3 separate regions of the Homo sapiens genome follow, and all the other regions are linked to region 1. The links come from fine-mapping of genetic effects on gene expression. A gene starts in region 1. Each other region holds a variant in brackets. All regions are shown on one strand. Distances are from middle to middle. Region 1 holds the start of PATL2 (PAT1 homolog 2). Region 2 overlaps PATL2 (PAT1 homolog 2). Region 3 overlaps PATL2 (PAT1 homolog 2).

Region 1 (5,225 bases):
GGACAGAACATACTTTCCATTATGATCAAATGGAGTAATGCATGTGACAGTGGGATTTGCGTTTTAATTAGCATCCACAGGTGATTGCTGTAAACTAGCCAGGTTGGGAATATATTGCCTAATGTTTCAGAAACAGTACTTTCCAAAATGAGAGGCATGACTAGACCATCCATGGGGAAGTGGGAAGAAAATATTATAAACTCTATATTTTTCATTGAAAATGAAGAGAAGTGTTAGTGCTACTAAATATACAGATTGACACTAAATATATGTGTATAAAATTCTTTTAAATACACTTATATTCAGGGTACATGATCACTAAAAGGCAGCTACTCCTCCTTGTCTGGGAGGCTGTGGGGAGAAGGAGGAGTACCAGGCCACCTTGACCAGATATATCTCTCTAGAAACACCCTATCATTAAGGAAAGGCTACTAGCCCCATCAAGAGGTGGATTGGGGAATCTAATGAAGACCTGATTTTTTTCATAACATTAAAAGCTAAGAGAGCTCTTTGCATCTGAGCTTCTAATAATAAGAACATATTAAATGCCTCAGGGATCAGAGCACAGATTCATCCTGCCTGGAACTCTCTGTTTGAGGGAAGGCGGCAAGATTTTGTGAGAGCATCACTGTAATCTTTTCTAAGAAGAGGACAAGTATCAGACAGGCTGGGTTTGAATTTGGGCTCAACCAGTTACTGGCTTTATGACTTTTGGAGAGTTATTTAAGCTTCCAAAACTTAACTGAAAAATTAATTTATGCCCACAGTAAAACAAAAACAAAACCCACACACAGGTCAGAGGAGGAAAATAGACCTTCAGAGGCAATCATCATTACATGTTTCTTGTGGTATCTTCCAGAAATGGTCTATGCATGGCATGTATTACTTTGGAAATTTTCAAAATAAGATTTTTTTTTAAATATCAGATTGTTATTTTTTAAAATGACATCTAACATAACCAGCAAATACCAGTAATGGTGGTGATATATACATTATCCTTTATGTTGTAAATAAATTGTATTCAAATTAAATGCAATTTTCTCATGATCAAAACATTCTGCTTTCGATCATGTTTTGCCAGAGGAAAAGGTGAGCGCGCTTAGTGTATTGCCAGGTACTTAGAAAGTGCTCAAGATCTCTGGCGTCCTCAACAGTCTTGGTAACCATCTTGGATTATCTTTATTAATGGTTTTACAGCTCCCCTGACTGACAAACCTTCACTTCTTTCTTTCTTTTCTTTTCTCTTTCTTTTTTTTTTTTTTTCTTTTTTGAGAGACAGGGTCTCGCTCTGTTGCCCACGCTGGAGTGCACTGGCGCCATGATAGCTCAAAAGCCTAAGCTCAAGAGATCCTCCCGCCTCAGCCACCGGAGCAGCTGGGACCACAGGCACGAGCCACCACACCCGGCTAATTTTTGTTATTATTTTTTGTAGAGACCAGGCTTCACCATGTTGGCCAGGCTGGTCTCAACTACGGACCTCAAGCCATCCTCCCGCCTCGGCCTCCCTAAGTGCTGGGATTACAGGCGTAAGCTACCACGCCCAACCCCCTCATGTTTTCAAAACCGAAAGTAAGAGGCACAGTACATCTTGGAAACAACCAGGCAAAGAGCCAAAGAGGAAGCCCTCTGTACGAAAAGACCACAGGGCCCATGCCGCCCAGTTTGCTCTGGAGAATCTCACGCAGAAGGCAGGCGTTTTTCTTAAAAAAAAATGCACGAATTACAGCCAAAAGGCATGCGCTCCCGCAAAAGCCCTGGTTAGGCTTGACTTCAATCTCGATTGCTGCCATTTATCCCCTGTGTAATTAAGTTTCTTAAAATCTCGGTGCCTTAGTTTCTTCATCTGTGAGAGGCAGAAGATAACCATAGTAGTTATCTATGGCGGAAGATAACTGTTTTCAAAATTAAATGACGCAAAGCACATAAAGTCCTTGGCACACAGAAAGATGTCAATAACGGGTAGTTCTTATAATTTTTTAAAAGTGACATGTGATGGGAACAAATAAGTTAATTATTCGAAACCGCTTTGTATCACAGCCAAGCATTCTACAAACGTCGCGTGCTGTTTCCTCCCCACGGTGTGGCCCCACATAGACCCAGAGGTGCTAGGACATGCGAACTTAGCGGGCGCCTAGACGAAGTCCACAGCTCTCCAGTCTAAGGGAAGCAGAGCCGCAGCAGACAGGCTTACCCGGGCGACGCCTCCCCCAGACCCCAAGCGCCCCTCCACGCGTTCACAAACCTCAGCGCCGCGCCTTTGGGACGAGCCTACCCGTCCCCCACTCCAGCTGCGCTGGGGGAGCCAGAGGCCCCGCGAAAGAGCGGAAGAGAAACCCTCCCCCAACCTCGGCGCTCTGACGCTTATCGACGCCCTAAACTTTGTCCCGACCCTCCCGTCGCCGTAGGCCAAAGGTCTCCCCTGCTCCCCGCCGAAAGGGGCAAGTAGCGCGCGTCCCGGGTGCGCACCCCCTTCCCCACTCCCAGGCCACCCCGCCGCTTCCCCGAGATCCAGCCCTGGACTAGCCCCACGGCGGGCCACCAAGGAGAACTTGGAGAAGGGAAGTCACGGAGCGAGAGAGCACAGCGAGGGCCACAGAGGGTGCAGAGCGGGAGAGGAAGGACCAGAGCGGGAGGGTAGGAGAGACTCACGCTGGATAGCCTCCAGGCCAGAAAGAGAGAGTAGCGCGAGCACAGCTAAGGCCACGGAGCGAGACATCTCGGCCCGAATGCTGTCAGCTTCAGGAATGCCCGCCAGCGCGACGCCTCCACTTATATTAAACGCGTGCCCAGCCAATCAGGACAAGGCCCGCAGGGACCGTCACCTGTCTCCAAGCCAGCGACGCAGTGCCAGGTTAGAGAGAGGGACTTTCCCGTTTTCAGTTTCCTTTTCTTAGAGTCTCGTGATGTTTAAGAAGGCATGCACTAGACTGGGTGAGTTTGCTGTCTGTACATCGGCGCCCTCCGATCTGGGGTGCGCGCCCCAGCTTGGGACACCGGGCGCTCATTCTAGGACTTCAGGCTGGAGGCACATTAAGGCTGCCCCCTCGCTTTGCAGACTGGCCCCAGAGATGCTAAGTGACTTGCTAATGGTGCCCCAGCCAGTTAACTGCTCGGACCTGCATTTTTCATTCGAGAAAACGGAAACCCAGAAGATTAAGATCTTTGAATGCTACCTAGCAGAAGGAGAACTTCTGTTTATAACTACAGCTTGGGAATTCCCTGCAGGGTTTCTCCATTCTCTGGGTAAGAAAAATAGTCCCAAAAGCATCCTGAGGACAGCTCAGAGAAGGTCCTAGTGAAAGAGTACCTTTCTTGCTTCTTGTATCCCTTCAGGAAAAAGTGTTTGGAAAGTTCTGTGCCAAGAAGTTCCTCCCTATGTCCTTGCTGTTTAGGTAATTTTCTTTGTTCTGTTGATTTGTCGGGGGGCGGGGGGGAGAAAAAAACGACCACTAATAGTAAAAGCAGTAACTGCTAGGGCTTTAGAGCTTCCAGCGCCCTCTAGGTACATCATTCTCTTAGTTTCCACCCTAGAACAGGGGCTGGCACATAGTAGGTACTCAGTAAACCGAATGAACGAATGGATGGATGAATGAATGAATTAGTGAATATATAAATAAACTGTAGGAGGAAAGAATTACCCCCATTCATTTTATGGACAGGGGAAACAAAGGCTAAGAGACTAGAATTCAAACTCTGGCCTGATTCCATTGACATTAATATTTTAGACACTGGAAGACAAAGGGCTCGGCAATTTTAGTGAGAGTTTGGACTGCATCTGCCTTGGACCCAGCCAAGGACGTTAAACATGACAGGCAGACCCATTAAGAAAACCTACCCTCTAAAGTGACCATAAATAAGGTGCCGCCATTTCGTGGTGGTGGAGTCCACAGATCTTTTCTAAGAGGAACAGTGAGAAGAGGAAGTGGACCATGGCGATGGGGAGGGGCAGAGATCTTGGAAGTCACCATGGTTTTCAGTTGAAAGGATTTGCCTAGCTTCCCCAAGGAGCACAACAAATAACTTCTAGGTTTCTTTTACATATTTTTAGGCTTTTGATAATCTTTATTGTGGAGGCCATGCCTAAACTAAGAAAATGCAATACTCTCCATGGACCTAATGAAATGAGATAATGCACAAGAGAGAGCCTCCCACAATGCCTGGTACATAGTAAGTGTTCTGTAGTGTTTAATAAGCGCTATAATTATTAATATTATTTACCTAGTTTTTCTACCAGCCCTCTCAATAACTAAAATATGAGAATAATTGTTATGCCTAAATGTATGAGTTAAGACACTCTTGCTCCCTCCCTTTTCCCCCTTTTAAAAACTCATATAAGGCACTAAAGGCCTGAAATGTTAGTGTTGAGTTGTACTAGAAAAGTGCCTTAGAAGTTTAGCAAGGGACAGGGCTATTTTTGCCTCTAGTTTCTTGTTTACTACATCACAGAGAAACACTAAATTTAAAATCCATTACAGATAGATTCTGATTTACTCACTTGGAAAACCAATTTAAAAACCAATAAAAAACAGTACAGATAGAAAAAAGTCGATTTTACAGTTTTCTTTGGGGGGGAATACCTGTATTTTTCTTGGACTTACCATTTATGACATGTTTTGAATAGTGAGGGGGAAAATTATGTATACAACTATTTGTTTAAAAACAAGAGCACTGTTTGCCTAGGATGGCAAATTTGGGAAGTCTACAAACATGACAATTTCTTTTTTTTTTAATTTTTAATATTTTTGTGGAGACAGAGTCTTGCTGTGTTGCCCAGGCTGGTCTCGAACTCCTGGTCTCAAGTGATCCTCCTTCCCCAGCCTCCTAAAGTGCTAGGATCACAAGCATGTGTTACCACGCCCAGCCACAAATATGACAGTTTAATAGCTTTATCTCCCAGTAGTGCAATTAACAGATTAATAGCGGCCTTTTTTTCCCCTATATAACCCTCTTAAAATTTTTTTACAATGAACATTTATTCAAAGTAGTAAATGTTGGCAAGAATTTAGAAGAACTGGAACTCTCATACAATCCTGGTAGGAATATAAAATGGTATAAACAATTTGGGGCTGGATGTGGTGGCTCACACCTGTAATCTGAGCACTTTGGGAGGTCAAGGCGGGCAGATCACTTGAGATCAGGAGTTTGAGACCAGCCTGGCCAACATGGTGAAACCCTGTCTCTACTAAAAATACAAAAATTAGCTAGGCATGGTGGCAGGCATCTGT
Region 2 (5,225 bases), 35 kb after region 1:
GGCAAGACTCTGTCTCAAAATAAACAAGTAAATGAAAGGGGGCAGGAGAGACAAAGTACAGTTATAGCATGGATTTTTAAATACACTTATACTATGAACAACTTTATGCCAACAAATTTGAAAATTTATAAGTAATGGACAAATTCCTAGAAGATATATAACTTAAAACTCAAGAAGAAATTGAAAGCCAGACTAGATCTACTGCTATTAAAGAACCTGAAACAATGGATAAAAAATCTCCCCATAAAAGAGTGTTTTATGTAGCAAATGTAAATATTTCTAATGTCATTTTTTTTCTTTAAGAAAAAATTTTTAATAGAGATGGGGTCTCACTATGTTGTCCAGGCTTGTCTTGAACTCATGGGCTCAAGCTATCCTCCTGCCTCAGCTTCCCAAAGTGCTGGGATTACAGGTATGAGCCACTCTAATGTCTTTTTAAAATCTGACCCAACAATCCTGTGTACCTGTGTGTACTTCTTATTCTAGAAGAAGCTCTAACAGGCTGTGGGAAGCATCTGCTTTATTCACTGTTTACCCCAAGCCTAACATAGGCTTGGCTTGAACTTAACATAATGAAATGATGGCAGGAAAGTTAGAACATCTAGGGGATCAGTAGACATATGAGACTTCAGATAAGGGTAGGGGACCTTCATAAAAAACAGTAGGTCCCAAGTGAAACTCCAAACAGCCAGGGCAGGGCTGTGATCTTTAAGACTGAGCCCTAGTCCACCTGCTTTGGTACTAGTCAGTACCAGAAGTCCCTTCAGAATGAAAATCTTCATGCAACAAGTTTCTCCTTAAGATCTAGTCTCTACAACAACCTAATGAATCACCTCTGGAACACTGAAATTCACCATGTGGTCCTTTTGTTAATAGTGCTAAAGTACGTTATTAGGAAGTTCCTGAGAGAAACAGCTGAATAACATTACCAAAAAGGCCAGAACCCAGCTGGGTGTGGTGGCTTGTGCTTGTAATCCCAGCCCTTTGGGAGGCCAAGGCAGGTGGATTACTTGAGGTCAGGAGTTTGAGACAAGCCTGGCCAACATGGCGAAACCCTGTTTCTACTGAAAAAAAATATATATATATACAAAAATTAGCTGGGCATGGTGGTGGCCGCCTGTAATCCCAGCTACTCGGGAGGCTGAGGCAGGAGAATCTTGAACCCGGGAGGTGGAGGCTGCAGTGGGCCAAGATCATGCCACTGCACTCAAGCCTGGGTGACAGAGTAAGATGCTATCTCAAGATATATGAGAAGTTTTTCAGTAACTTTCAAGCTACTTATATTTGTTCCCCCACCCATATAGTTATGACCTGCAGTAAAACTTCTGAAACAAATATTTTCCTTTAAAGGCACCAAGAATCATGGTCTTATCACCATGACAAGAGGGTCCTAACTTTCATTTTTGATGTAGGGAAATTAACTTAGTTTTTATTCTTATTCAGAAGTTCTACAAAGTCATGTGGGTTTCAGCTGAACACAGGATGTGGGCACAGAACCCAGGGTTGCTTGAGGGTTAGATGAGACTTGGGAGGGTGTTGGGTTTTGCCTACCAGGAGCAGCTATGTTTTTGTTTTTGTTGTTGTTGATTTGTTTTTACTCCTGAGCTTCTGGACCAGTTTGCCATTAGAGCAGCCAAGAAGATGTAAGACTGTGTATCTCATGCAAAAGTGTTTTTACCATGAAGATCTGACTTCCAAATTCACAGGGGTCTCTCATCAGTCAGAGCTGAGTAGCTGACTTAAGCTCACATGACCCGGTGAAGGGCAAGCATCATCAGGTGGACTTGAGGGCTTCAAGTACGCTGCCCTGAAGCGCCAGGAATGTGGTTGCTAGGCATCCTCCCCAGGATCTACCCAGGACTTTCCTATCCAATTTTGTTGAAGCAAAACCTAGGGATTAAATTAAATGCAACCTCACAAACTACCAATGAAGGGTGTGGAAAACAGGGATCCTCTTTTTAACTATCTGCCCCCAAATATCAATCCCAATAAACTGTACTAAAAGCCATGGATGGCTAAAAATGCAGTTTATGTCTTTTCTCCATTCAAGCGTTTTTTTAATCATTAAACTATGTTCTCATATTTCCATCAGGCCCCAATGGATGGAGGATGCTAGCCCTTTAATGGGTGAGCAGGGGAGGAGCTGGGACTTTTAAAGCCAGGAG[C/T]GGCAAACAGGTCCTGGCCCAGGCTGCTATGAATAACTTAAACAGAAAGGACAGCAACAGTCAGGTGGTGGGTGTCGGCAGCAAGGCATCACCACACTCGGACGGTGACTGGTGATGTCGGTTGGGAAGTACTTCTCTTCCTGCTTCTAGCCTGTGCCTCATTTCTGTCCCTTTGTGGGACAGCTCCCTAGAGCCGAGCTGGGAGGGTGGGTGTTTATGGCAGTCTGAGACCCCAGGGTCTCTCTCCTCAAGACCATGGCCAAGAATTCTCTAACCATCTTGCTGGGAGGATTCCATGGCTGTTTTAGGGTGCCATGTCATCCTTACTGACTGAGGATGGTGCCTCTTGGCCTCTTTCTTGTCTCAGGTTTACCTTCCAGAGGCTGGCAATGCTGTTTCACTGGAGGACACGGCTAAGAAGGAAGTCCACCAGCCTGCCAAGATGAATTGCCTTGAAGGTATCAACAAGTGGGCCGTGATGTTATATAAAATGCCCCAGCATGCAGAGGTTGCTGGTCTGTTTCACATATGGGATTGGATGTCCAGAGTCACTGGAAGTTATTCCAAATTCTTCCACTTGCTAATTATATCATAATGGGTGACTGAAAGGTCACTCTTCTGGGCTTTATTTTTCTCACCAACCTAGTAAAATTATCAACAACAACCCAGGACAGCCTCATATTACTGTTAAATGAACATATGCACGTAAAGTATATGGCACACAGTAGGGTTAAATTGCAGTGAGTCAGGGCAGGTGGAACTTGTTCAAAGAGGCAATAGAAAGGGCGTTGGGTGGGGCAGAGCAGATGGAAAAGGCTGTGCTAGAACTTAATGAAGGAATTGAAGAGGGGATGTGAAAGTGAAGGTGTTTGGTATCTGCCGGGTTCCTTTTGTTTGCTTTTTAAATTTTTTACTTAGAGACAGGGTCTCACTGTGTTGCCCAGGCTGATCTCAAACTCCTGGGCCCAAATGATCTTCCCGCCTTGGCCTCCCAAGTAACTGGGACTACAGGCACGAGCCACCACACCTGGCTCAGGTTCCATTTGACTTACTGGGGGATGGTTCGGGGCACCTTGGGAGAAGGGAGGCCGAGTTAAACCCACAGAACAGGAGGCGTTATGTTCAAAGGTGGTGCTGGAGATGGCTTATGAACAGAAGTGCTATTGAGTAGCAGCCTCTCTAGACAAGACTCACAGCTGAGCCCCATCTTACCTTCTCCTCTGGCCCACACTTAAACCAAGGGCCAGGTAAGACCTGTGGCCCCTTGGCTTCTGAGGAGGAGCTGGTGTCTGCCTGCCAGTTGGAAAAAGAAGAAGAGAATGAAGGGGAGGAGGAGGAAGAGGAGGAGGACGAGGAGGATCTGGACCCAGATCTGGACCCAGACCTAGAGGAGGAAGAGAATGATCTTGGGGATCCAGCTGTACTTGGTGCTGTCCACAACACCCAGGTACCATGGCAGAAGGGAATGGGAGAGGGTTGTCCTGAACTGTCTGTGGCTCACAGGCTGTCACTAAACATTCCTCTTCTCTTTTCTACCCTTTTCTAAGACAAGTTCTGGATTAACACTTTCTTTTTAAGCCTTGAACTTGAGTTAGGGACTCTCTCCTTCCCTCTTTCTCCTGTCTCCCACTTCATTTCTGATGCTGTTCTCGCCTTAAAACCAGGTCCTAGCAGAGCTGTGCATCGCCCACAGGCGGTGGCCCTGCTACTAGCGTTAAAGGTGAGTCACGTTTGCCTGATCCTGGGCCCCTCTGTCTCAGTAGTCCATTCCTGGTATTTATTCCCCTGGATCCCATAACTAGTGGAGAAGGACAAGGACTCCTATGTAGATATGAGGTGATTTCAGAACTTCCTTCAACCTACTACTAAGGTACAGTAGTCCATGGTTTCACTTTCTGCCATTTCAGTTACCCTTGGTCAACTATAGTCTGAAAATAGGCAAGTATAGTACAATAAGGTATTTTAAGAGAGACCACATTCACATAACTTTTATTACAGTATATTGTTATAACTGTTCTATTTTTATTGTTCATTTCTTATTGTGTCTAATTCTTAAATTAAACTGGCCAGGGGCAGTGGCTTATGTCTGTAATCCCAGCACTTTGGGAGGGTTGCTAGAGGCCAGGACTTCCACACCAGCCTGGGCAACAAAGCAAGACCCTGTCGCTACAAAAAAAAAGAAAAAAAATTTTCAAAAATTAGCCAGATATGGTAGCACATGCCTGTAGTCTCAGCTACTTAGAAGTCTGAGGCAGGAGGATGGCTTGAGCTCAGGAGTTTGAGCCTGCAGTGAGCTATGATGGTGCCACTGCACTCCAGCCTGGGTGACAGAGCAAGACCCTGACTCTAAAAAAAATTTTTTTTAAATATATATATAAACTATCATAGGCATGTATATATAAGAAAAAAGCACTATACACAGGGTTTAGTACTATCCAGTTCTAGGCATCCCTTGGGGGTCTCGGAACATATATGTCTCATGAATAAGGGAGGACCACTGCACTAGTCTTATTCCTCCCAGGAGAGGGAGAGGGATCCTGGCCCAGCTGACTTTGAATCTGAGGGAGGGCCAAGCTGCCACTGCCCTGGATGTTGGAACACCTGGTCTTGCTGCTTCCTCCCACCACCTCAAAAACACAGGTGAATGCAGAAGACACTACAGGGGCCCATTTGAGCCTGGTTTTTCCTCCCTCCTGTTCCAGAGAGCTCTGCTTAGCTCCCCTGGAGTCAAGGCCCCTGGTATGCTGGGAATGTCACTTGCCTCCTTGCATTTTCTGTGGCAGGTGAGTCTGCTGCAGTCTCCATACTGTGGGTAGTGAGGATTCCATCTATTATGTTCAGTCTACCCCCAACCCTGGTCTGGAGTTAAGGCACCCAAAGTGAGGTATGGGTGTGGGAGGTGGGAGTTGCCCCATCATAGAGGAGCTTGATAAATGACAGAGGTGGTGTGCCCAAGCAGGGGCATGGATAGACACCTTAATAAGTGGTACTGGGACAACTGGCCATTTGTATGAACAAGGACAAACTAGATCCCTTACTCCTGCCTTAGGCAATCTTTCA
Region 3 (5,225 bases), 24 kb after region 1:
CAGTGAGCTGTGACTGTGCCATTGCCCTCCAGCCTTGGCAACACAGTGAGACCCAGTCTCAAAAAAAAAAAAAAAATATTTTGACTTTATTTGTGGTTTTATATTTGCCACTCAGCAATCTTAAATTTTTTTGTAGACAAATTTGTCAGCCACCCTTCATAGCCTATGGATTTGGGGTGATAGTTAGAAGGTCCGTCTTTACATTTAGAAAACACTCACTTTTTTTTGAGACGGAGTTTCGCTCTTGTTGCCCAGGCTGGAGTGCAATGGCGCTATCTCAGCTCATGGCAACCTCCGCCTCCCATGTTCAAGCGATTCTCCTGCCTCAGCCTCCCGAGTAGCTGGGATTACAGGCATGTGCCACCATGCCTGGCTAATTTTGTATTTTTAGTAGAGATGGGGTTTCTCCATGTTGGTCAGGCTAGTCTCGAACTCCTGACCTCAGGTGATCCGCCCACCTCGGCCTCCCAAAGTGCTGGGATTACAGGTGTGAGACACCATGCTTGGCCAACATTCATATATTTTCTTTTAGTATTTTTGAGATTTTCTTCTTATTATTATACTTTAAGTTCTGGGGTACATGTGCAGAACATGCAGGTTTGTTACATAGGTATACATGTGCCATGGTGGTTTGCTGCACCCATCAACCAGTCATCTACATTAGGTATTTCTCCTAATGGTATCCCTCCCCTAGTCCCCCACCCCACAACAGGCCCTGGTGTGTGATGTTCCCCTCCCTGTGTCCATGTGTTCTCATTGTTCAACTCCCACTTATGAGTGAGAGCATGCAGTATTTGGTTTTCTGTTCTTGTGTTAGTTTGCTGAGAATGGTGGTTTCCAGCTTCATCCATGTCCCTGCAAAGGACATGAACTCATCCTTTTTCATGGCTGCATAGTATTCCATGGTGTATATGTGCCACATGTTCGTTATCCAGGCTATCATTAATGGGCATTTGGGTTGGTTCCAAGTCTTTGCTGTTGTGAACGGTGCTGCAGTAAACATAGCTGTGCATGTGTCTTTATAGCAGCATGATTTATAATCCTTTGGGTATGTACCCAGTAATTGGATTGTTGGGTCAAATGGTATTTCTGGTTCTAGATCCTTAAGGAATCACCACACTGTCTTCCACAATGGTTGAACTAATTTACACTTCCACCAACAGTGTAAAAGCATTCTTATTTCTCCACATCCTCCCAGCATCTGTTGTTTCCTGACTTTTTAATGATCACCATTCTAACTGGCATGAGTTGGTATCTCTTTGTGGTTTTGATTTGCATTTCTCTAATGACCAATGTTGATGAGCTTTTTTTCATATGTTTGTTGGCTGCATAAATGTCTTCTTTTGAGAAGTGTTTGTTCATATCCTTTGCCCACTTTTTGATGGGGTTGTTTGCTTTTTTCTTGTACATTTGTTTAAGTTCTTTGTAGATTCTGGATATTAGCCCTTTGTCAGATGGATAGATTGCAAACATTTTCTCCCATTCTGTAGGTTGCCCATTCACTCTGATGACAGTTTCTTTTGCTGTGCAGAAGCTCTTTAGTTTAATTAGATACCACTTGTCAATTTTGGCTTTTGTTGCCATTGCTTTTATTGTTTTAGTCATGAAGTCTTTGCCCACTCCTATGTCCTGAATGGTATTGCCTAGGTTTTCTTCTGGGGTTTTTATGGTTTTCAATCTTACATTTAAGTCTTTAATCCATCTTGAGTTAATTTTTGTATAAAGTGTAAGGAAGGGGTCCAGTTTCAGTTTTCTGCATATGGATAGCCAGTCTTCCCAACACCATTCATTAAATAGGGAATCCTTTCCCCCACTGCTTGTTTTTGTCAGGTTTGTGAAAGATCAGATGGTTGTAGATGTGTGGTGTTATTTCTGAGGCCTCTGTTCAGTTCCATTGGTCGATATATCTGTTTTGATACCAGTGCCATGCTGTTCTGGTTACTGTAGCCTTGTAGTATAGTTTGAAGTCAGGTAGCATGGTGCCTCCAGCTTTGTTTGTTTGTTTGTTTGTTTTTGCTTAGGATTGTCTTGGCTATGCGGGCTCTTTTTTGGTTCCATATGAAATTTAAAGTAGTTTTTTCTAATTCTGTGAAGAAAGTAAATGGTAGCTTGATGGGGATAGCATTTTTTTTATTATTATTATTATTTAGCTAGTTTTTTTTTTTTTTTTTGAGACAGAGTCTCGCTCTGTCACCCAGGCTGGAGTGCAGTGGCATGATCTTGGCTCACTGCAAGCTCTGCCTCCCGGGTTCACGCCATTCGCCTGCCTCAGCCTCCCAAGTAGCTGGGGCTGCAGGCACCCGCCACCACACCTGGCTAATTTTTTGTATTTTTAGTAGAGATGGTTTTCACTGTGTTAGCCAGGATGGTCTCAATCTCCTGACCTCGTGATCTGCCTG[C/T]CTTGGCCTCCTAAAGTGCTGGGATAGCAGAGAATCTATAAATTACTTTGGCCATTTTCACGATATTGATTCTTCCTATCCATGAGCATGGAATGATTTTCCACTTCTTTGTGTCCTCTCTTATTTCCTTGAGGAGTGGTTTGTAGTTCTCCTTGAAGAGGTCCTTCACATGACTTGTAAGTTGGATTCCTAGGTACTTAATTCTCTTTGTAGCAATTGTGACTGGGAGTTCACTCGTGATTTTGCTCTCTGTCTATTATTGGTGTATAGGAATGCTTGTGATTTTTGCACATTGATTTTGTAGCCTGAGACTGCTGAAATTGCTTATCAGCTTAAGGAGATTTTGGGCTGAGACTATGGGGTTTTCTAAATATACAATCATGTCATCTGCAAGCAGAGACAATTTGACTTCCTCTCTTCCTATTTGAATACCCTTTATTTCTTTCTTTTGCCTGATTGCCCTGGCCAGAACTTCCAATACTATGTTGAATAGGAGTGGTGAGAGAAGGCATCCTTTTCTTGTGCTGGTTTTCAAAGGGAATGCTTCCAGTTTTTGCCCATTCAGTATGATATTGGCTGTGTGTTTGTCATAAATAGCTCTTATTATTTTGAGATACGTTCCATCAATACCTAGTTTATTGAGAGTTTTTAGCATGAAAGGGTGTTGAATTTTGTTGAAGGCCTTTTCTGCATCTATTGAGATAATCACGTGGTTTTTGTCATTGGTTCTATTTATGTGATGGATTACGTTAATCGATTTGTGTATGTTGAACCAGCCTTGCATCCCAGGGATGAAGCTGACTTGATCATGGTGGATAAGCTTTTTGATGTGCTGCTGGATTTGGTTTGCCAGTATTTTATTGAGGACTTTCACATCAATGTTCATCAGGGATATTGACCTTTGAAATTTTCTTTTTTTGTTGTGTCTCTGCCAGGTTTTGGTATCAGGATGATGCTGGCCTCATCAAATGAGTTAGGGAGGATTACCTCTTTTTCTATTGTTTGGAATAGTTTCAGAAGGAATGGTACCAGCTCCTCATTGTACCTCTGGTAGAATTCAGCTGTGAGTCCATCTGGTCCTGGACTTTTTTGATTAGTAGGCTATTAATTACTGCCTCAATTTCAGAACTTGTTATTGGTCTATTCAGGGATTCAACTTCTTCCTGGTTTAGTCTCGGGAGGGTGTATGTGTCCAGGAATTTATCCATTTCTTCTAGATTTTCTAGTTTATTTGCATAGAGGTTTTTATAGTATTCTCTGATGCTAGTTTGTATTTCTGTGGGATCAGTGGTGATATCCCCTTTATCATTTTTTATTGTGTCTATTTTATTCTTCTCTCTTTTCTTCTTTATTAGTATGGCTAGTTGTCTATTTTATTGATCTTTTCAAAAAAACAGCTGCTGGATTCACTGATTTTTTGAAGGGTTTTTCATGTCTCTGTCTCCTTCAGTTCAGCTCTGATCTTAGTTATTTCTTGTCTTCTGCTAGCTTTTGAATTTGTTTGCTCTTATTTCTCTAGTTCTTTTAATTGTGATGTTAAGGTGTCAATTTTAGATCTTTCCTACTTCCTCTTGTGGGCATTTAGTTCTATAACTTTCCCTTTAAACACTGCTTTAAATGTGGCCCAGAGATGCTGGTACGTTGTGTCTTTGTTCTCATTGGTTTCAAAGAACTTATTTATTTCTGCCTTAATATTGTTATTTACCCAGTAGTCATTCAGGAGCAGGTTGTTCAGTTTCCATGTAGTTTTGCAGTTTTGAGTGAGTTTCTTAATCCTGAGTTCTAATTTGATTGCACTGTGGTCTGAGAGACTGTTTTTTATGATTTCCGTTCTTTTGCATTTGCTGAGGAGTGTTTTACTTCCAATTATGTGGTCAATTTTAGAACAAGTGCGATGTGGTGCTGAGAAGAATGTATATGCTGTTGATTTGGGGTGGAGAGTTCTGTAGATGTCTATTAGGTCCACTTGGTCCAGAGCTGAGTTCAAGTCCTGAATATCCTTGTTAATTTTCTGTCTCGTTGATCTGTCTAATATTGACAGTGGGGTGTTAAAGTCTCCCACTATTATTGTGTGGGAGTCTAAGTCTCTTTGTAGGTCTCTAAGAACTTGCTTTATGAATCTGGGTGCTCCTGTATTGGGTGCATATATATTTAGGATAGTTAGCTCTTCTTGCTGCATTGATCCCTTTACCATTATGTAATGCCCTTCTTTGTCTCTTTTGATCTTTGTTGGTTTAAAGTCTGTTTTATCTGGGACTAGGATTGCAACCCCTGCTTTATTTGCTTTCCATTTCCTTGGTAAATATTCCTCCATCCCTTTATTTTGAACCTATGTGTGTCTTTGCACATGAGATGGGTCTCCTGAATACAGCACACTGATGGGTCTTGATTTTTTTCTTTTTTTTTTTTTGAGACAGAGTCTCACTCTGTTGCCCAGGCTGGAATGCAAAGGCGCAATCTCAGCTCACTGCAACCTCTGCCTCCTGGGTTCAAGCAATTCTCCTGCCTCAGCCTCCCAAGTAGCTGGGATTACAGGTGTGTGCCACCAGGCCCAGCTAATTTTTTGTATTTTTAATAGAGATGGGGTTTCACCATGTTGGCCAGGATGGTCTCAATCTCTTGACCTCGTGATCCACCCGCCTTGGCCTCCCAAAGTGATGGGATTACAGGCGTGAGCCACCGTGCCTGGCAGGGTCTTGACTTTTTATCCAGTTTGCCAGTCTGTGTCTTTTAATTGGGGCATTTAGCCTGTTTACATTTAAGGTTAATATTGTTATGTGTGAATTTGATCCTGTCATTATGATGCTAGCCGGTTATTTTGCCCGT

What was found. PIP is the estimated chance that this variant, and not a neighbour inherited with it, causes the effect. A credible set is the group of variants that fine-mapping cannot tell apart.
Region 2: its variant is the best candidate, but not a certain one, in a credible set for the expression of PATL2 in whole blood (TOPMed, PIP 0.60).
Region 3: its variant is the best candidate, but not a certain one, in a credible set for the expression of PATL2 in whole blood (TOPMed, PIP 0.52).

Annotation. Positions count from the first base shown.
Region 1 is chr15:44,709,038-44,714,262 of GRCh38, reverse strand. PATL2 (PAT1 homolog 2) reads left to right here and starts at 2,940. Exons shown (of 18, transcript NM_001387263.1): 1 at 2,940-3,243; 2 at 3,334-3,392; 3 at 4,049-4,167. It overlaps B2M (beta-2-microglobulin), which reads right to left and starts at 2,746. Exons shown (of 4, transcript NM_004048.4): 1 at 2,650-2,746. The coding sequence starts at 2,716. RefSeq lists an enhancer at 2,263-2,925.
Region 2 is chr15:44,673,873-44,679,097 of GRCh38, reverse strand. It overlaps PATL2 (PAT1 homolog 2), which reads left to right. Exons shown (of 18, transcript NM_001387263.1): 4 at 2,533-2,623; 5 at 3,407-3,612; 6 at 4,868-4,948. The coding sequence starts at 2,608. Among named protein-coding and RNA genes, the nearest start is that of SPG11, 13 kb to the right of the region's middle. RefSeq lists an enhancer at 3,379-3,428. The variant C/T (reference allele first, on the strand shown) is at 2,166.
Region 3 is chr15:44,685,192-44,690,416 of GRCh38, reverse strand. All of the region lies in intron 3 of PATL2 (PAT1 homolog 2), which reads left to right. Among named protein-coding and RNA genes, the nearest start is that of PATL2, 24 kb to the left of the region's middle. The variant C/T (reference allele first, on the strand shown) is at 2,400.